Linked DNA regions of Homo sapiens. The protein of the gene in region 1 interacts with the protein of each later gene in a pairwise test. Each region holds a gene or a part of one and is shown in the gene's direction. Other genes may lie near its edges.

Region 1 (5,552 bases):
AACAAAGAAAGAGAAAGAAAAAGGGAAAGGAAGGGAGGGAGGAAGGGAGGGAGGGAGGGAGGAAGGGAGGGAGGGAGGTCCAAAACTTAGCTACTTGGGAAGCTGAGGTGGGAGGATCACTTGAGCCTAGGAAGTCCAGGCTGCAATAAGCCGTGATCGCACCACTTCACTCCAGCCTCGGTGACATAGTGAGACCCGGTCTCAAAAACAAACAAACAAACCAAACCTCACTGCAAATATTTATCAGCTGCGGTGGTGCTGCATCTACACACACAGCGCCGAACTTGGAAGTTGGCGGAGAGCAGCTCTTTGGGCACCAGGCAAGGTCTCAGCCTTCAGACAGATGTGAAGGGCGAGACTTTCCTTGGAAAGGAATTAAAGGGTTTATCTTTTTAAAACACCTGTTTCTCTTAAAAACTTAAGAAATGTATAATTTAAAAATTTAAAACTTTGATATTATTAATTGCTTATTGTTGAATGAATCCTTGTGAAAATTATTGATTGTAATGTTAGTGCCATGGATATGTCCTTTGTCCCAGCACCTATCTCATTGTCCTAACAAGGTTACTGAAGGTTCTCTTTCCACTGCTTTAAAAGCCAGCTGATACATACTACATTCTTTCTTTTTCATATAGTTGAACTTTTACTGCACCAGGATAAATTTTTAAATATTTAGTGATAGTATACATAGTAAATATAGAGATATTGCTATGCATTTTCAATTCTTTTCTGATCATTACCATAAGTTTTTATTAGAATGAAAATTGGAATAGTTCCTTTAGGAAAACAGGCAAAATATATAAATGTCAAAAAAAGAAAATATATACTTAGAAAACATAGATGATTAGAATTTTTAAAAACAAATGTTAGTCTTTTCCTCCAGTATCTATTAAAGTGTTTTTCAGTGTCAACAGTAAAATTTTATACCTTGATTCATATATACTGCACTAGTTTACTGTTGCCATTAATCTTTTTTCTTGCTAATCAAAACTTATCATTGCCATATAAAATAACCTGTTAGAAAGTATCAACCGTGTGTGTGTGAGTGTATGTGTGTTACTAAAAAGAGTGTCATAAAATACTGTGCTGAGAGGTTCCTAATTTGGTTCCTGATTTCAGAAGCATACCACATAAGATTTAAGCAAGCTCATCTCTAGGAGATGCATAATTTGTGGATAACGGTTTTCTTAGTTGGGATTGTGTGTACTTCAGGTATTATGTAATGCTGAACAGCTTACTTGCTTTTTCTTTTTTTCCCCCCAGAGATAAACTGAGGATCACAAATATTATTCTTTTATGTTAATAATGGTTTCCATTTTCTAGTATTTGTTACATTTTACGGCTTTATTCACAAAGCTGTTTATGTATTTTTGTGGCAGCTCTAAGTTAAAAGGCACACTTGTAACATTACAGTCCCAATTTTCCCTTTATCAACTTTATATTATAAAATTTTCCAACACATAGTCAATAAGCATGTCCATATTCTAGAAGTAGATATTCTTAACATTTTGCCATACTTCCCATTTCTAATTATTTTTTAAAAAGAACTTACAAACGGGCCGGGAGTGGTAGCTCACGCCTGTATACCCAGCACTTTGGGAGGCCAAGGCAGGCGGATCACTTGAGGTGAGGAGTTCGAGACCAGCCTGGCCAACATGGTGAAACCCCGTCTCTACTAAAAATACAAAAATTAGCTGGGCGTAGTGGCGGGCGCCTGTAGTCCCAGCTACTTGGGAGGCTGAGGCAGGAGAATCGCTTGAACCCGGGAGGCGGAGGTTGCAGTTAGCCGAGATCGCGCCACTGCACTCCAGCCTGGGCGACAGAGTAAGACTCCGTCTCAAAAAAAAAAAAAAAAACCAAAAAACCCAAAAACTTACAAACATAATACAATCCTAAATACTTACATAGACATCTCTTTATGAATAAGCAAGATTACCTACATAATCCCAATGCTGCCACAATTAATTAATAATTCTAATTTCCAGTCCGTATACAAATTTTCCCAATTGTTTTCAAACGTCTTCCGCGGCTCTTGCTTTCTGTAACCACACGCTGCATTTGCTGTTATGTCATCAAGTCTAACCCACAACCTCTGGGGCTCTGACAGAACCCGGGCTCCAGTTATCAGGACGGTCCATGTTATTACGCCATAAATCTTGGGGGAAAAACAAACAAAAAAACACTGACAGCTGGCGCCGTACTGCATGTGAAACGTAGTCTTGCATGTTATGGGTTACCGCGCAGCATGCTGGGAACGGATATGCGCGTTTTCGTCTGCGCATGTGCAGTCAACCCCACTTTCCGGCTTCTCCCTGTTAGTGTTTGCTGGTGCAGAGGGTTCGCAGCTCAGGTGAGAGCGCCGGGCCTCCACGCGGATTGCGGACCTGCAGGGAGGGATGTGCTAGTGTCCAGGGGGCGGGAACGCGACGTCCCGGGAACTCCCCCAAAGCAGGCCGTCGCTCCCTGTGCCTCGGCCGGCCCGGGACCTCAGCCTGAGAAGGGCCGGTGGGGGCGGGCTCCGGGGGCGTTAGGTGGGGCTGAGTCCTAGTTGGAAGATGCTCGGTGCGGGCCGAGGTATGGGCGCCAGAATGCAGCCAGGCGTCGGAAAACGCGGTGCTGGCTTCAGGAGGGGAATGCGCGTTTATTGTATTGACCATGAACCTGCCACAAAGCGCGTACAGCCCGTGGGTCTGCGGTGAGAGGCCGAGCCTAGGAGCTAGAAGGACCTCGTGAATTTTGGCTCTGTCACTTGAGCGTTTGAAAATGAGGATATTAGTAAAAACTGCTTTGTGTCGTTCAGAGGTAAGCCATCCCCTGTAAAGCATTTAGCTAAGCGCTAGTTACTAAGCAGCATGTAAATGTTGATTCCCGTTATATTTGGAAGACACTTTGTTCTTTTCATGTAGTATTTCGTTTAATTCTCACAACCACCCTATTTATATCATTAAAAATGAAGAAGGAGGAGTGAAAAGATAGAGCCAAGCTCACAAAGGATGAGAGAGCTAGGATGTCAATACATAAACACTTTACTCCCCGAATCAGGCTGTTTGTAATGGCCTACCTACCTAACCCAGCATTGCAGCCTTCACAGCACTGAGTGATTGTCCCCAAAACCCCAGGACAATGATTGTGAAGTCAGTGTGGACAGAATCTTACTATGTGGCAAGTGTATTTGTTGTGGGGTTTCTGGGATGTCTCCAGAGCCTCTGGGTTAGACTGAGGCCCCTGCCACCTCCTGTGCTGTCCCTCCTGTCTCTGTCTTTAGAAGTCAGTCTGATATTCTAGGGCAGTGAAGATGAGTCACATACGTAATTTTAAATGTTAAACTAGTAGCTACATGAAAATCTAAAACATGAAATTAATTTTAAGAACATACTGTGGTTTTCTCAGTGTATCCAAAATGTTATTTCAACATGTGGTCCTAGCCACATTTCCAGTGCTCAGTAGTTGATGTGATTGGAGGCTGTAGTCATGGATAGCAGGGTTCTAATTAATGCCAAGAGAATCAGGTTTAAGGCCTTAGGTCACTTCTTCACCAGGAGGATTTTGCTCCCTAGGGAACTTTGGAAATGTTGGAGACTTTTTTGGTGGGGGGAGAGGGGACTGAGTTTCTCTCTGTCGCCCAGGCTGGAGGGCAGTGGTGTGATCTTGGCTCACTGCAACCTCCACCTCCCAGGTTCAACTGATTCTCCTGCCCCAGCCTCCCAGCTTGTAATCTCAGCTGGAATTACAAGCATGCATGGCCATGCCCAGCTAATTTTTTGTATTTTTAGTAGAGGTGGGGTTTCACCATATTGGCCAGGCTTATCTTGAACTCCTGACCTCAGGTGATCCACCTGCCTTGGCCTCCCACAGTCCTGGGATTACAGGCGTGAGCCACCACGCCCGGCCTGGAGACGTTTCTGATTGTCACAACAGGGAGAAGGGGTGTCCTAGTGTCTAGTGCATGTTTAGAAATGCTCTTAAACATCCTGCAATGCACAGGACCACTCCTTATGTCAGAGGATTATCCAGCCCAAAATGGAAGTTGTGCTGACGTGAAGAACACTGTTTTCCATGAAAGTTTCAACTAAAATAAATTTGTTACCCAGGCATCAGCCCCAGCTTCTCTGGAGCAAAGCAGCTCTTTATGTTGCAGGAAGGAGGGAGCCCCAGGAACAGGAGTCCCACCGAAGAACTGCTCTCTGACAGAACAGAGACCTCCTCACCAGGGCTTCCAAACAGATGCAGAAGAACCCAGAAAGGAGCAGGTCTTGATTTGCCCAACCAGCGGCACTTCTTCATCCCCTTGCCCAGAGAGCACCAGACTTGGTGATGTCGCCACATCCAGAAGCCATCACAGATTGTGTGACACTGAACACTGTGGGCCAACTTGCAGAAGGTGGTAAGCTGGGGTTGAGAGGCGTGGGTGACTGTCAGACTGCACAGGAAAAGCCACATTACTGGAGGGCTTTTCTCCATGGTCTCCAAGGAAGGCATAACCAGCCAGGGCTGAGGAAATTGTCTCTAATCCTCCTCATAGAGCCCCCATTTTCTTCATTCTTGCCTCACTCTTTCCAGATTCTGAGTCACTCTCACACAACATCCATCACATGTAGCATCTAGAAATTTACTAAGGTTGCCTCTATCCTGAACCTGTAGAATCACAAAAATGATAATACAGGAAAGGATTTCTATTTCTGACTCTTAAAACCTTAAAAAGTATTGAACCTAGGATGAACAGTTTGTCCATGGTCACTCAGGACAGAGCTTGGAGCAAAGCACAGTGCTGTTCACTCTGTCACAGGTGAGTCACCAGAAGTGTCTTATCGAAAGTCTTTTGAGAAACTATAAGTTAGAACAAAAATATTTTAAAATAGTCTTTCAGCATCTCCTTTTTTTCAGTTTTGTGTTTTCTATTGGTGTAAATAATATTAACAGAATATTAATGTTAATTCTGTTTAAGTTGTTAGTCAAAGAAGACATACATTTTAAATAAATCAATAGGAAAATAGTCTACAATCGCCTGATGAAAAACAGCAAGGGGCCAGGCCTGGTGGCTCACCCCTGCAATCCCAGCATTTTGGGAGGCCAAGGCGGGCAGATTGCTTGAGGTCAGGAGTTCGAGACCAGCCTAAGCTACATGGTGAAACCCCATTTCTACAAAAAATACAAAAATTAGCTGGGTGTAGTGGTGGGTGCCTTTGGTCCCAGCAACTCAGGAGGCTGAGACGGGAGAATTGCATGAACCCAGGAGGCAGAAGTTGCAGTGAACTGAGATCACACCGCTGCACTCCAGCCTGGGCAACAGAGCCAGATCCTGTCTCAAAAAAAAAAAACAAAAAAACACACACACACAGCAAGGGTTCATCCACATGATCATATTAAAGATGCACATATTCAGGAGGTGCTTTCTCTGTAGTGCTGCTTGTCCCTTCTCAAAGGTCAAAGGAACATTTTTTGTAGAGAGGCCTTTTTCCCCAGCTGGTGTGATGACATTGGTAGGCAGGTAAGATGGAGGCTGCCCAGATCTCTCATGACTCCTTCCTCACCCCCAGGTTATCCTTTACGGT
Region 2 (4,991 bases), on another chromosome or scaffold:
CCTGCCAGTGACTGATATTTCTTTATTGCATGCACTCTGATATAGGTCCCAGAAAAAAAAAAACAAATGTCATCATTTTTTTCTTTTTTCTTTTGAGATGGAGTTTCATTCTCATCACCCAGGCTGGAGTGCAGTGGTGTGATCTCAGCTCACTGCAAAGTGCCTCCTAGGTTCAAGTGATTCTCCTTCCTCAGCCTCCTGAGTAGCTGGACTTACAGGTGCCTGCCACCACGCCTGGCTAATTTCCATATTTTTAGTAGAGACAGGGTTTCACCATGTTGGCCAGGCTGGTCTTGAACTCCTGACCTCAGATGATCCACCCGCCTCGGCTTCCCAAAGTGCTGGGATTACAGGAATGAGCCACTGCACCCGGCTCAAATGTCATCATTTTGACTCGAGTTGACAACAGCTTTTTTTCACTTTCTGGCTTGCTCTTAAATATGCTTGGGGACAGCAGCCTATTTAAGTCATAGATTTATTAGCCCCCAATATTTCTTTATATACTGATTATATAGTATTATTTATATCATTTAATCAATTAACGTTGATTATATGTAACTAAAATTGTTAGTCTAACTAACAATTCGACTTCAAAAACTAGGTGTGTATGGATTGCCTTGGCACTGAAAAATACATCCTCTTTCCAGGTGAGCGAAGGACCCCCTCTGAGGCTTTGGAGGTCAGTCATTGAAGTCCCTGCTGTGCCAGAGGAAATCTTAAAGCGCCTACTTAAAGAACAGCACCTCTGGGATGTAGACCTGTTGGATTCAAAAGTGATCGAAATTCTGGACAGCCAAACTGAAATTTACCAGTATGTCCAAAACAGTATGGCACCTCATCCTGCTCGAGACTACGTTGTTTTAAGGTGAGCGCTTCCCAGTTGTTTTTTTGTGACAAGGATGACTCCATATATGAACCAAGCCTATATGTCACTGATCTTACAAGATGGTATAATTATTTAAAGTAGAGGCCGGGCATATGGTGGCTCACACCTGTAATCCCAGCACTCTGGGAGGCCAAGGTGGGAGGATCACTTGAGGCCAGCAGTTCAAGACCAGCCTGGGTAATATAGCAAGACCCTATCTCTACAAAAAAATTTTAAAAATCAGCTAGATGTTGTGGTGCATGCCTGTAGTCCTAGCTACTCGGGAGGCCGAGGCAGGAGGATCCCTTGAGCCAGGAGTTTGAGGCCGCAGTGAGCTGTGAGCATGCCACTGTACCGCAGCCTGGGCAACAGAGCAAGACCTTATTTCTGAATAAACAAAACAAAACATATGCTTCCAGAAAAGTAGTGAACACCTTCAAATATGGAAAACAGATCTACATTTATTCTAGCAGTGTGTTCCTCGCTGAGAATGGTCTGAACTCTTTGGTAACTGAGCTCAGAAAGAGAGGCCCCTTCCAATGAATATGCTCATTCGTAGCAGATTTTTGCCCCTTTTAGGATAGATTTTCTTGTCAGAAACAGCTAGTGAATGAATAAGCCAGGAAATAACATTTGAGTCCCAAGGGAGATGTGGTTAAGGCTGATGTATGTGTAATTCATAAATTCTCTGGAGATATTACTGAAAGAAGAATTCCAAAAATCTTTGTGGAAATGTCACATTGGAAGTCCAGACCTTTTCAAACAGCCAGCGCTCCTTTAGGTGTCTGTGTTCCAAGACATTTGTGAAATAGAAAAATGGTTTTAAGCTACACTTCAAATGGGCTCTTTTTTCAAAGAGGAGACTGTCTGAGCACATAAACCCTCTGTAACAACGGCTCTGTACAGAGTTCCTCATTCAGCAGTCCTTGTACAGTGTCTTCGTGCATGTAATGCTGCTCTAACAGAATCTCACAGACCAGGCAATTATAATGAACAGATATTTATTTGGCTCATGGTTCTAAAGGCTGGGAAGTTCAAGATCAAGTAGTTGCATCTGGTTAGTTGGTTGGTTGTTTGATTGATTTGGGGACATGGTTTCATTCTGTCACCAAGGCTAGGGTGCAGTGGCACACTCATGGCTGCTGAAGCCTTCACCTCCCAGGCTCAAGCAATCCTCCCCCCTCAGCCTCCCAAGTAGTTGGGACTGCAGGCATGTGCCATCACACCTGGCTAATTTTTTTGTTTCTGGTAGAGACATGGTGTCACCATATTGTCCAGGCTGGTCTCAAAACTCCTGGGCTCAAGCGATCCTCCTACCTCAACCTCCCAAAGCGCCGGGATTACAGGCATGGGCCACCCACCATGCCTAATGAGGGTCTTTTTGCTGTGTCATCCCATAGTGGAAGGGCAAAGAGAGGGCAAGGGAGAGCAAAAGAGCAAATGTGCAGCCTCAAGCCATTTTTATTTTTATATTTATTTATTTTGAGATGGGGGGGTATCACTTTGTTGCCCAAGTTTGAGTACAGTGGCATGATTACAGCTTAAGCAATCCTACCATCTCAGCCCCCGGAGTAGCTGAGACTACAGGAGCACACCACCATGCCCGGCTAATATTTTTTATTTTTAGTAGAGATGAGGTATCACTATGTTGTCCAGGCTGGTCTTGAACTCCTGAGCTCAAGCAGTCCTCCCTCCCCAGCTTCCCAAAGTGCTGGGATTACAGGCGTGAGCCATGGAACCCAGCCTTAAGCTCTTTTATAATTGGCATTAATCCAGCTCCCATTAGGCCCCACCTCCCAACACTGTTGTATTGGGCATTCACTTTCCATCACATGCTTTTTGGGGAACACATGTACACCATAGCAAGTAGTTTAGAGGATGCCATTTACCTAGGCCTGGGTCACACAGCATGGCCACTGAGCCTGACCCGTCACCACACTGCAAATAGTGAAGAGTGAAGCACGATTTTAAACTTGGCTTCTATGAAATTCCATCATTTCTGCCTCTGGTTTTGTCTCTACAGAACCTGGAGGACTAATTTACCCAAAGGAGCCTGTGCCCTTTTACTAACCTCTGTGGATCACGATCGCGCACCTGTGGTGGGTGTGAGGGTTAATGTGCTCTTGTCCAGGTATTTGATTGAACCCTGTGGGCCAGGAAAATCCAAACTCACCTACATGTGCAGAGTTGACTTAAGGTATGTTCTGATTCTGATTTTTTTATATGGTGAGGGTCATGAAGGAAATTCTGACTTTTTGTCTAATGCAAAGAATGCCTTAAACAAACACGTCATTTTTTCTTGGTGACTTCATGAAGAATGGTGTTTAGAAAGTAGCATTTCATGTTTGTTGGTCTTTCAGCGACCACTTCGTAATTTGGTTCCCTTAGAAAATGTGGTTCTAAAGCAAAGCAAATATGGTAGCTCGGCCATGAATTCAAAGGCATGGGAAATGATAGATTTTATGCATTTGAACTAGCAAACAGATGTTTCTCATTTTATTTCCATGCTTTCTAACTTAAATAATTCATCAGCTTTTCTTTCTTTTCTCTGATAGGGGCCACATGCCAGAATGGTACACAAAATCTTTTGGACATTTGTGTGCAGCTGAAGTTGTAAAGATCCGGGATTCCTTCAGTAACCAGAACACTGAAACCAAAGACACCAAATCTAGGTGATCACTGAAGCAACGCAACCGCTTCCACCACCATGGTGTTTGTTTCTAGAACTTTTGCCAGTCCTTGAAGAATGGGTTCTGTGTCTAATCCTGAAACAAAGAAAACTACAAGCTGGAGTGTAGGAATTGACTATAGCAATTTGATACATTTTTAAAGCTGCTTCCTGTTTGTTGAGGGTCTGTATTCATAGACCTTGACTGGAATATGTAAGACTGTGCAAAAAAAAAAAAAAAATTTATGTGTATTCTTATTCAAATTGCTTCTGAGAAGCAAAACTCTTTAAATACATTATGGAAGATAATGAAGATACTTCATTCTCTTGTGATATCAGTGTATGCGTACCTGTGTCGCTTTATTTGCAGTGTGTTGAGGGACTGGTGTATCCACTGGAATAGTTGGTACTCTTGGATGTGTTTTCTCACCAAGATGAGCAAAGAAAGGTTTGCACAGAGGAGTGTGAATGTGTGTTTGTTGCTGGCTGAATGGCAATAGATGTCTAAGGTGGATTCAGTGTCTGGCACACTGAGACACCTCCAAGAAGGAGATTGATGCATCAGGTTCAGTTTAACCTGGAATATCTGACTACCCCTGAATCCACCCAGAAAGGGGGCCCAACACCCTTGTCCATTTATGGGTATTTTTTTTCGAAGTTATTAAGCATATTCCTTTTCCACGAACCTCTTCTGTACTTTGATTGTAATAGGTTGGCTCTTACACCCATTCCAAATGCAGTTTATTTTTAGACCCGATTGCAAATAGTGATGTAGTTTTAACCAGTATGGATTAGTTCAGGGATGAACTGCTCCCTCTAGCCTTACTGGCTCTGATCCACAGGGTTTTGTTTTGTTTTGTTTTGTTTTTTGTTTAAGTCGAGATATAAAAACTGAACACGATAACACTTACTCTTAAATCAAGCATCAACACTTTTTCCCTGTTAGAATTCTTTGCATTTTTGTGTTTGTAACAGAAACGCCTTAAGACACTATGTTTGGGAATATAGGAAACTATGTGTGTCCCAAGGAAATCCCTGTAAATTTAACTCACCTACAAAAGGCTTTTTCCCCGCCTTTGGTTGTTAACGGCATTCCTGAAAGCCACATGTGTTTATTCATTGGGCTTGTTCTTATCAGCAAATAGGTTTTCTGGTTTTATGACTTTTTGTCTTATTTTATTTTTCCTACATTTCTTTTTTTTTTTTTTTCCTTTAGAATGCCCTGGAAATATATTTAAGTGGTAATGAAAAATAGTAATCATAGTAAAACGCAACAAGAAGAAAACCAACCCAAACCAGTGAAGTTTTTTAGAACCTTTAGAAGGGTGGTCTTTATTCAGGTTTTACTGTAATGGTAAGGATTGACTCAAGAGACAGTATTAGTAAATTTATTGTGTATGGATCAAAAGTGAATAATGTATGAATGAGAGCTGTAAGAAGGATTTTTATTTTGTTATA
Region 3 (4,991 bases), on another chromosome or scaffold:
CTGGGGGTCTGCGAAGTGCTGAGTGCTCTCATACTGCATTTTACATTTTTAACACAACTTCATGGAGCAGGTATTATTATCATTTCTGTCTTACAGAGTAAGAAATGGGGGCTCTGCAAACTTAAGTAACTGGCCCAGAGTGACAAGGTGGCAAACTGACCTGTGTCTGCTGTCTAAGACCAAGTGCTTAACCACCATGTAGATTGACACTTTGATGTGGTACAGCAGTAAAGTTTAGTATTAGTGAGGAGAGGGCATCTCTTTTACTATAGTTTATTGTGAATATTCTTTCCTCTTAATATCAGTATTTCTACAGGGTAATTTTAACACCTGCCTGGAATTGCATTGTCTCAAAGGACCCGTTTCATTCAATGGTCCCATTGAATGAAAGTCAAGAAGGCTTGCTATAAGATCTAAACTCTTAGGGGGGTTACCTTTCTATTATCAAATAACCTTTATTGTTATTGGAAAAAGTCAGCTTAACAGCATTAAAAGCAATTTCAAAAAAAGGAAACGAATACCATATGATCCAGTAATTCCAGTCCTATGTATATCTCCAAAAGAATTGAAAACAGGCCCCTGGACAGTTATTTGTACATCAGTGTTCATAGTAGTAGCATTGTTCACAGTAGCCAAAGGTGGACCCAAGATCCCATCAACAAATGAATGGATAGATAAAATGTGGTTCATCCATACAACAAAATACTATTCAGCCATAAGAAAGAAAGAAATTCTGATTTATGGTACAACATGGATGGATCTTGAGGACATTATGCTAAGTGAAGCCAGACACAGAAGGACAAATACTGGATGATTCCACTTACATGAGTACCTAGATTAGGCAACTTAATATTCTACAGAAATTAGAATAGAGGTTACCAGGGGCTGTTCAGAGGAGGGAGTGGGCATTATTGTTTAATGGCTACAGTTTATGCTGGGGATAATGACAGTGTTTTGGGTACAGGTAGTGGTGATAGTTACACAACATTGTGAATATTGATGATACCGAATTGTACACTGACAAATGGTTAAGATGATAAATATTATGGTATGTATGTTTTACCACAATAAAAATGAAAAGGAACAAATATCTCTATTTTTCTAACCCAACTGAATTCCTTTTCTCTCTGTGTCCACAGTCATACATTTTGCTTGTATACTGTAATTATTATACAAATACTTTTATTTTGTATTTGAATTTCTTTTTACTCAGTCTATACCACAACTTTCCCCTATAGTTAGCATGGCCTTCATATTTTTAGTGGCTAAAGAGTATTTCATCATGCAGCCAGATCACAGTGCCCACAGCCCTCCCCATGTTATTGAATATTTAGGTTGTTTCTAGGTTTTTATGTTTATAGACAAAGGCTGCCTTTCATGGGCTTTTGTCTGTGGAATCCCTTTGACATCAGGAATCTGCTGGTAGGAAACAAAGGCTCCTCCCAGTGGCTTCTCTGTAAGGAGAATCCACTTAAAATTAAAAAAAAAATTAATTTTGGAGTAGATAGTACGTAAACATGGCACAATTTTTTTTGTTTTTTGGACAAGGTGTTTGCAGTGAAAGCATTTCCCTTTTTTGTCCCCTACCTGCCCATTTCCTCTCCCTGGAGGTGACGTTTGTTGCCAGGTAAAGAGAGACAGGGTTGAAAGCCGCGGTAGAAAATAGGCCCAGCCTCCGCGGTTACTTCCGGGCCTCTATGTAGGCATCCCTGGTGCAGGTGGCTGAGTGGGCAGCGGGAGATGATCGGAGGATGGGCTCCTGTGGGAGATTCCATTTCTGACTCTGCTCTGAAGGTGCAGGGTGTGCCTGTTTTCTTCCCTTCCTCATCCGTCCTCAAATGCTGCAACTTAGTAAAGGTCAGCTCTCCATTTCAGTTTTCCTCTTTGGTATGTAAGGCTGTGTCACGGGAAGATGTTTCCTTCTGAGTGACTGATTTAAAAAACACAACAAAACAAAAAAACCTCTTTATTGAGATATAATATACATACCGAAAAGGGATGTATCCTCAGCACATAGCTTCATGAACTTTTACAAACTGAACACATCTTGTTACCAGCACCCATATAAAAAAACTGAATGTGATTTCCACTTCAGATGACCCCTTGAAGGGCTTTTTTTTTTTTTTTTTTTTTGAGATGGAGTTTCGCTCTTGTTGCCCAGGCTGGAGTGCGATGGCGCGATCTTGGCTCACTGCAACCTCTGCCTTCCGGGTTCAAGTGATTCTCCTGCCTCAGCCTCCCAAGTAGCTGGGACTACAGGCATGCACCACCACGCCCGGCTAATTTTGTACTTTTTTTGATAGAGACGGGGTTTCTCCATGCTGGTCAGGCTGGTCTCAAACTCCCGACTTCAGGTGATCCGCCTGCCTTGGCTGCCCAAAGTGCTGGGATTACAGGCGTGATCCACCGCGCCTGGCCTTTTTTTTTTTTTTTTTTTTTTTGAGACAGAGCCTCATTCTGTCGCCCAGGCTGGAGTGCAGTGGTGTGATATCGGCTCACTGCAACCTCTGCCTTCTGGGTTCAAGCGACTCTTGTGCCCCAGCCTCCCGAGTAGCTGGGATTACAGGCGTGTACCACCACACCCAACTAATTTTTGTATTTTTAGTAGAGATGGGTTTTCACCATGTTGGCCAGGCTAGTCTCGAACCTCTGACCTCAAGTGATCCATCTCGGCTTCCCAAAATGTTGGGATTACAGGCATGAGCCATTGCACCCAGCCTAAGGGCTCATTTTTAAGACAACAACAAAAAACTGGAGAACTGGTAAGATAAACTGGGAAGTTCATGTGCGTCACAGAAGAGCTGAAATTCTTGAGAGCACTGAGTGTGTGCATTTCTCAGCTCGATTTTGGAGTGTGCCTTTTGTGAACTCATTAGAAAGCGTAATGGCAAAAGAGCAGGTCCTCTCGACAGCACTTGGAGAGGAAGCTGGGCGTCATGATAGTAACAGTTTTCCCTTCTCCTTCCTTTCTTCTGAGCAGTTCCCAGTGCAGTGTTTGACATCCACGTGGTCTACGTCACCACCACGGAGATGTGGCTGGACTGGAAGAGCCCTGACGGTGCTTCCGAGTATGTCTACCATTTAGTCATAGAGTCCAAGCATGGCTCTAACCACACAAGCACGTATGACAAAGCGATTACTCTCCAGGGCCTGATTCCGGGCACCTTATATAACATCACCATCTCTCCAGAAGTGGACCACGTCTGGGGGGACCCCAACTCCACTGCACAGTACACACGTAAGTCTCTTAGGATGCCCTTCTAAGGAACAGCCTCTCTAACTGTCTCTTGGAGGAGGCACTGGTTAAATGATGGCCAGTGTGCTTCTGGGATCCAGGTTGACTCTGAAACTGCTGAAGTTGAAAACATTGGTCTCAGCAATGGTTCTGCTGTCACCATGGGGCACTGTTCTTCAAGCTATGTGAACTTAGAATTGTCATTAGAAGGAAGAAATGATTCCTTGGGAATGGTGACTGAAATGGTTCTAGTCATTCCTTGAGAATACAGAGTAGAGAAGGGTCACCTTGTCATGTTGGTATTGGAAGATACTGCCCAGATGAGGAGCTTCGCCTGCAACAGTTAGGGAGGTGTTTTGCGAATATTTGAATTAAATACATGGTAAAGATGTTAGTTTGTAATATGTTTTTAGTATATTTTTCTCCATCTATTAGATTTAAAAAACAGATTAGAAATTAAATGTTAAAAATATATTTGAAATAAACTTGAAGTATTAAAAGAAGCCTAAATTAAACTTCTTTTGAGACTTAATCTGTATAATTATTTTCTTGATGTGTTTTTGGGAAGTTTTCCATCTTTTGAGCCAGCAAATACTAGTTTTATTCATTCTTTCTAAAACGAGCCAGGCTATTTTTGGATATAGTAAATAGTCCTGGAATTCTACTTAATCTGTGCTTTTACATGAATTGCCTTTTTTTTAAAATCAAGGGCCCAGCAATGTGTCCAACATTGATGTAAGTACCAACACCACAGCAGCAACTTTAAGTTGGCAGAACTTTGATGACGCCTCTCCCACGTACTCCTACTGCCTTCTTATTGAGAAGGCTGGAAATTCCAGCAACGCAACACAAGTAGTCACGGACATTGGAATTACTGACGCTACAGTCACTGAATTAATACCTGGCTCATCATACACAGTGGAGATCTTTGCACAAGTAGGGGATGGGATCAAGTCACTGGAACCTGGCCGGAAGTCATTCTGTACAGGTGAGTGTAGCCCCAACTGCCTCTTGGACTCCTCCCTGAGTGGTGCTGACCTTGCAGGTCAGTCCTCCCAAGTCTGTAGTTTGTCTGGTTTTGTGTGATGTGCAGTGATGGACATTGAGCTTTCCGAGGCATCCTGTTAGCTTATCGGTGCTGTCTCGATGCCCTCATCATTTCTGCATTCAATAAATATTTATTGAGCATATACCATATGCCAGTCAAGTCCTTGCCTTCTTGGAACTTTTCGAAGGAGGAAGTGGGATGTTTACCTAGAGTGCTCAGGAAAGGCCTCAATGACAAGGTGACTTTTGAGCAAAGATCTGAATGAAGGGAAGGAGCCAGCCATGTGGATATCAGGGCATGAGAACATTACAGGCAGAGGCCTGTGCAGAGGGGCCTGTGCAGCATCACCACTGTATCTGGAGGCTGGAGGAAGAGCAGGAGGCAAGGGTGGGAGGAGTGGACCCGCAGGAACAGGAGGATATAGGTGGGAGGTGAGGCCTGAGTGGGGCTGAGCCAGGATGTGGATGATATCTGGCATTGGTTTGTCTTTTGTGCTGGAGAAGATGAAAAGTTTATTGAAATGATGCCCAGCCTTTGCATCCTTCTTGATCCTCACCTATCTCACAACTGAAAATGTGTGATAAAGAGAAGAGCCCTCTGTGTAATTGAGGATGCTTTCAGGGCAGCCCAGGAAAGGCTTTGCAGACAGTGGTGGGCACTTCTGCTCACAGTGCTGACTGTGGCACCTTTATCACTCAGCACCCGTGC
Region 4 (4,421 bases), on another chromosome or scaffold:
TCTCCACTAAAAATATAAAATTAGCCAGGCCCCGGGTGTGGTGGCACATGCCGGTAATCCCAGCTACTCGGGAGACTGAGGCAGGAGAATCGCTTGAACCCAGGAGGCGGAGGTTGAGGTGAGCCGAGATCATGCCATTGCACTCCAGCCTGGGCAACAAGAGTAAAACTCTGTCTCAAAAAAAAAAAAAAAAAATACTGAATTCTGATCAGGTAACAGCAACTGTAATACAATGTGATAAGTTGACTTGAAGATTACAGTTTTTAAGAAGTATATACCCAGCTAATACATGAAAATTAACTCGTAAAATCTCAAATGCTCCAGACATTTCCATGATGCCTGTTGGTCAGTAAAAATCATTCTAAGACTTAGTGGAAGTAGGAAATGTTTGTATGGCTGTGTATAAAGGCTATAATGTAATCCCAGCACTTTGGAAGACCGAGGCGGGTGGATCACCTGGGGTCAGGAGTTTGAGACCCACCTGGACAACGTGGTGAAATCCTGTCTCTACTAAAAACACAAAAATTAGCCGGGCATGGTGGCAGGCGCCTGTAATCCCAGCTGCTGGGGAGGCTGAGGCAGGAGAATCGCTTGAACCCGGGAGGCAGAGGTTGCAGTGAGCCAAGATTGCACCGCTGCACTCCAGCCTGGGTGACAGCGTGAGACTCTGTCTCAAAAAAAATAAAAAAGTCTATAATGCTATTTTAAGTTTCTAAGGAACTGAAACTGCTCTGAAATAAATCAGACCATTATAAGACTTTTTTCCATATCAGTGAGCTAAGTGCAGATAAGCTTCTGAAACTTGCATGCTAGATTTTTTTGGTACAAATATTTGAAATGCTTAGTGTGCTGCCTTGGAAAAACCTGGTATTTTTTGTTGTGTCCTTATACTGCCAAGGTTTATGGAATCATGTACCTTATGCCTAGTAATAATTAGGATGACCAGGCCAGTGAGTGGTTCATATCCGGGGCATGATTAGCTCTGCGTGTGCTCAGCCAGTGCCCCATCTTCAACTCGATGTGTTCCTAAGGTAGACAGCAAATTCCCTATTTTATTTCTCAGATTGTCACTGCTGTTCCAAGGGCACACGCAGAGGGATTTGGAATTCCTGGAGAGTTGCCTTTGTGAGAAGCTGGAAATATTTCTTTCAATTCCATCTCTTAGTTTTCCATGTAAGTATTCAGTTTACATTTATGTTGCAGGTTAATCTTAAGAATTGTATTGCTAAGGCTTCTAAGTGAATTTCTCCACTCTATTTGCATTTTGTTGCATTTCAGAGGAACATCAAGAAATCATGAACAACTTTGGTAATGAAGAGTTTGACTGCCACTTCCTCGATGAAGGTTTTACTGCCAAGGACATTCTGGACCAGAAAATTAATGAAGTTTCTTCTTCTGTAAGTATATGAGGCCCATGCTGGCAGTGCAGCTGAGAGTGCCAGGCAAGTGGAAAACTTTGGCAAGGTCTAAGGAAGAGCAATGAGGCTTACATGTCTTGTTATGGAATGTAGAAATTAATTCACTGGTGGTAAATTAATAGTGATAATGGTGATACTCATATCAGTGGCTAGACTCAAAAGAGCAGGATTCATTGTGACTGATGGGAATGAAGGTCGCTGGCTATTGGTGTGGTGTGTGGTGAGGCTGCTAGTGAGTCACCTGTGACCACTCTTGTTTCAGGATGATAAGGATGCCTTCTATGTGGCAGACCTGGGAGACATTCTAAAGAAACATCTGAGGTGGTTAAAAGCTCTCCCTCGTGTCACCCCCTTTTATGCAGTCAAATGTAATGATAGCAAAGCCATCGTGAAGACCCTTGCTGCTACCGGGACAGGATTTGACTGTGCTAGCAAGGTAAGCGATAGCAGCAGGCCTCAAAAGCGTTGTATAAAATGGGCCTGGTATTCCCCACGAGGCAGATACAAGTTGTGTTTTTTGGGCAATAAATGCTCACTAAAGGCAAATGGGGCGGGGGGGTACATGACAACTTCCCATGCTTTTCTGTTTATTCCACGTGTTAAGCCACATATGGATAGCATGACACCACTCTTCTTTTTCAGACTGAAATACAGTTGGTGCAGAGTCTGGGGGTGCCTCCAGAGAGGATTATCTATGCAAATCCTTGTAAACAAGTATCTCAAATTAAGTATGCTGCTAATAATGGAGTCCAGATGATGACTTTTGATAGTGAAGTTGAGTTGATGAAAGTTGCCAGAGCACATCCCAAAGCAAAGTGAGTTATTCCCCCATCTGAGGGCAAGATCGGGAGCATAAGATATGTGGATTCTTATCAAACAAACTTAAATTTCTGATTATTATATTTCTATACTTTAGTAGAAAGTAGTTGAAACCCCCATTGAGTCATGAAGCCTGGGACTCAAACTACAGAATATATCAGCGACAGTATTTAGAACAGGATTGTTTTTATTTTAATTGTGGCTATAAGTGAACATCTATCATGAGACATTTGCTGCACTTTCCTTGCTTGTAGGTTGGTTTTGCGGATTGCCACTGATGATTCCAAAGCAGTCTGTCGTCTCAGTGTGAAATTCGGTGCCACGCTCAGAACCAGCAGGCTCCTTTTGGAACGGGCGAAAGAGCTAAATATCGATGTTGTTGGTGTCAGGTGAGATTTTGGTGGGATAGCTAGAGGTCAAGACATTGAACAGTTTGAGTTTTACAGGCTTTCTCCTAGTGTTTGCTATTATTTTAAGAAATACTAAGACACAGTGTCTCGTCTCTTTATTTTACCCCAGCTTCCATGTAGGAAGCGGCTGTACCGATCCTGAGACCTTCGTGCAGGCAATCTCTGATGCCCGCTGTGTTTTTGACATGGGGGTGAGTATACGTGACCCTGTTAGGGAAGGGCGGGACACAACTGACAATAACTAGTCTTAATTCTAGAGTTAACTTTTTATGGCAGTTGGTTCTGTATTACATGGGTTTCAGCCTATCTGCTGCATACATTTTTGTTATTAGCTGTGGATCTGGCTGACTTATTTTCTTGATTCTAGGCTGAGGTTGGTTTCAGCATGTATCTGCTTGATATTGGCGGTGGCTTTCCTGGATCTGAGGATGTGAAACTTAAATTTGAAGAGGTAATTTAGAACAAAACTGTAATACTCAGTAGCCGTTCTAATAAATTCCTTTTTGGAATATTTCAAAATTTAAGTGTCTTAACTAATACCACAATGGGCTGAAGTGTCTTGGTGTGATATTTTGAGTGATTTCTTTGTGCTGTCTGACATTACACTTGATACCATTTGGTTTTCTAAAGTGTGAATCAGCTTTCCCAGAAGTCTTGGATAATTGGTTACATTGGAAATCATGGCTCACACCTGTAATCCAGCACTTGGGGAGGCCAAGGTGGTAGGATCACTTGAGCCCAGGAGTTTGAGACCAGCCTGGGCAACACAGTGAGACCCCATCTCTACAAAAAAAATTTTAAAATTAGCCTGGTGTGGTGGCGGGCACCTGTAATCCCAGCTACTTGGAAGGCTGAGGTGGGAGGATCACTTGAGCCCAGGAGGTTGAGGCTGCAGTGAGCCATGATCATGCCACTGCACTCAGCCTGGGCTACAGAGTGAGACCCTGTCTCAAAAAAAAAAAAGAAAAAGCATGTTGCTGTGGGCTTCCTAGAGAATATGCTGACTGTAGCACATCATCACCCCAAATGTGCTTTGCTAGACCTATGCTTCCTCTCCTTAAAATACTTGAAATGTTTAGTCACTTAGGAAGTTAAGCCATTATATTGGTGCTTGAATTTATAAAATATATCCACATGGTTTGTTAAAATCATGACGTAGGCAGAATAGGATTTTTATCCTGTTGGCATGTATTTGTTAAAATGTTTTGACATCTTGATGCCTTCCTAGGTAGTAGTTAGTTGCGTACTGTTCTTTGATAAAAATCATACCCATAACATCCTAAAGGAGATAGGGTGCCTGGAGGGGAATGAAAACGAGCCACCTGGGATATGTAGCCTGGTTTTCAGGGAGATGTTGATGTTTTTTTGCTTTTGTTACTTTAATGATAAACCTGTCTGTTGATGCCTGGTCTCATGATGTCATGTCACAAGGCCCTGTGATGTTACTCCCCCATGTGAATTTCCCACAATGAAGGCTGCTCTTTCTTTTCTGTTTCACTCTCTTAGATCACCGGCGTAATCAACCCAGCGTTGGACAAATACTTTCCGTCAGACTCTGGAGTGAGAATCATAGCTGAGCCCGGCAGATACTATGTTGCATCAGCTTTCACGCTTGCAGTTAATATCATTGCCAAGAAAATTGTATTAAAGGAACAGACGGGCTCTGATGGTATGTATAAAGGACGAATCACTTCATGTATAACTGAAAGCTGATGCAAAAAGTCATTAAGATTGTTGATCTGCCTTTCTAGACGAAGATGAGTCGAGTGAGCAG

What was found. Proteins that work in one complex are often made in the same cells at the same time.
Region 2: the proteins of ZNF510 (region 1) and DLC1 interact in a two-hybrid assay, tested with the Homo sapiens proteins (one large-scale study listed by BioGRID and IntAct).
Region 3: the proteins of ZNF510 (region 1) and PTPRJ interact in a two-hybrid assay, tested with the Homo sapiens proteins (one large-scale study listed by BioGRID and IntAct).
Region 4: the proteins of ZNF510 (region 1) and ODC1 interact in a two-hybrid assay, tested with the Homo sapiens proteins (one large-scale study listed by BioGRID and IntAct).

Annotation. Positions count from the first base shown.
Region 1 is NC_000009.12:96,774,832-96,780,383, reverse strand, and holds the start of ZNF510 (zinc finger protein 510), read left to right. Parts: upstream 1-2,296; 5' UTR 2,297-2,350; exon of another isoform or gene 2,351-2,802; intron 2,803-4,138; 5' UTR 4,139-4,314; coding exon 4,315-4,384; intron 4,385-5,537; coding exon 5,538-5,552. UniProt on the Homo sapiens protein: May be involved in transcriptional regulation.
Region 2 is NC_000008.11:13,084,361-13,089,351, reverse strand, and holds part of DLC1 (rho GTPase-activating protein 7), read left to right. Parts: intron 1-647; coding exon 648-865; intron 866-2,888; coding exon 2,889-3,062; intron 3,063-3,420; coding exon 3,421-3,541; 3' UTR 3,542-4,991. UniProt on the Homo sapiens protein: Functions as a GTPase-activating protein for the small GTPases RHOA, RHOB, RHOC and CDC42, terminating their downstream signaling.
Region 3 is NC_000011.10:48,133,059-48,138,049, forward strand, and holds part of PTPRJ (receptor-type tyrosine-protein phosphatase eta isoform 1 precursor), read left to right. Parts: intron 1-2,980; coding exon 2,981-3,238; intron 3,239-3,944; coding exon 3,945-4,223; intron 4,224-4,991. UniProt on the Homo sapiens protein: Tyrosine phosphatase which dephosphorylates or contributes to the dephosphorylation of CTNND1, FLT3, PDGFRB, MET, KDR, LYN, SRC, MAPK1, MAPK3, EGFR, TJP1, OCLN, PIK3R1 and PIK3R2. Plays a role in cell adhesion, migration, proliferation and differentiation.
Region 4 is NC_000002.12:10,441,907-10,446,327, reverse strand, and holds part of ODC1 (ornithine decarboxylase), read left to right. Parts: intron 1-1,063; 5' UTR 1,064-1,173; intron 1,174-1,278; 5' UTR 1,279-1,295; coding exon 1,296-1,397; intron 1,398-1,680; coding exon 1,681-1,854; intron 1,855-2,060; coding exon 2,061-2,233; intron 2,234-2,491; coding exon 2,492-2,626; intron 2,627-2,756; coding exon 2,757-2,838; intron 2,839-3,014; coding exon 3,015-3,098; intron 3,099-4,153; coding exon 4,154-4,316; intron 4,317-4,398; coding exon 4,399-4,421. UniProt on the Homo sapiens protein: Catalyzes the first and rate-limiting step of polyamine biosynthesis that converts ornithine into putrescine, which is the precursor for the polyamines, spermidine and spermine.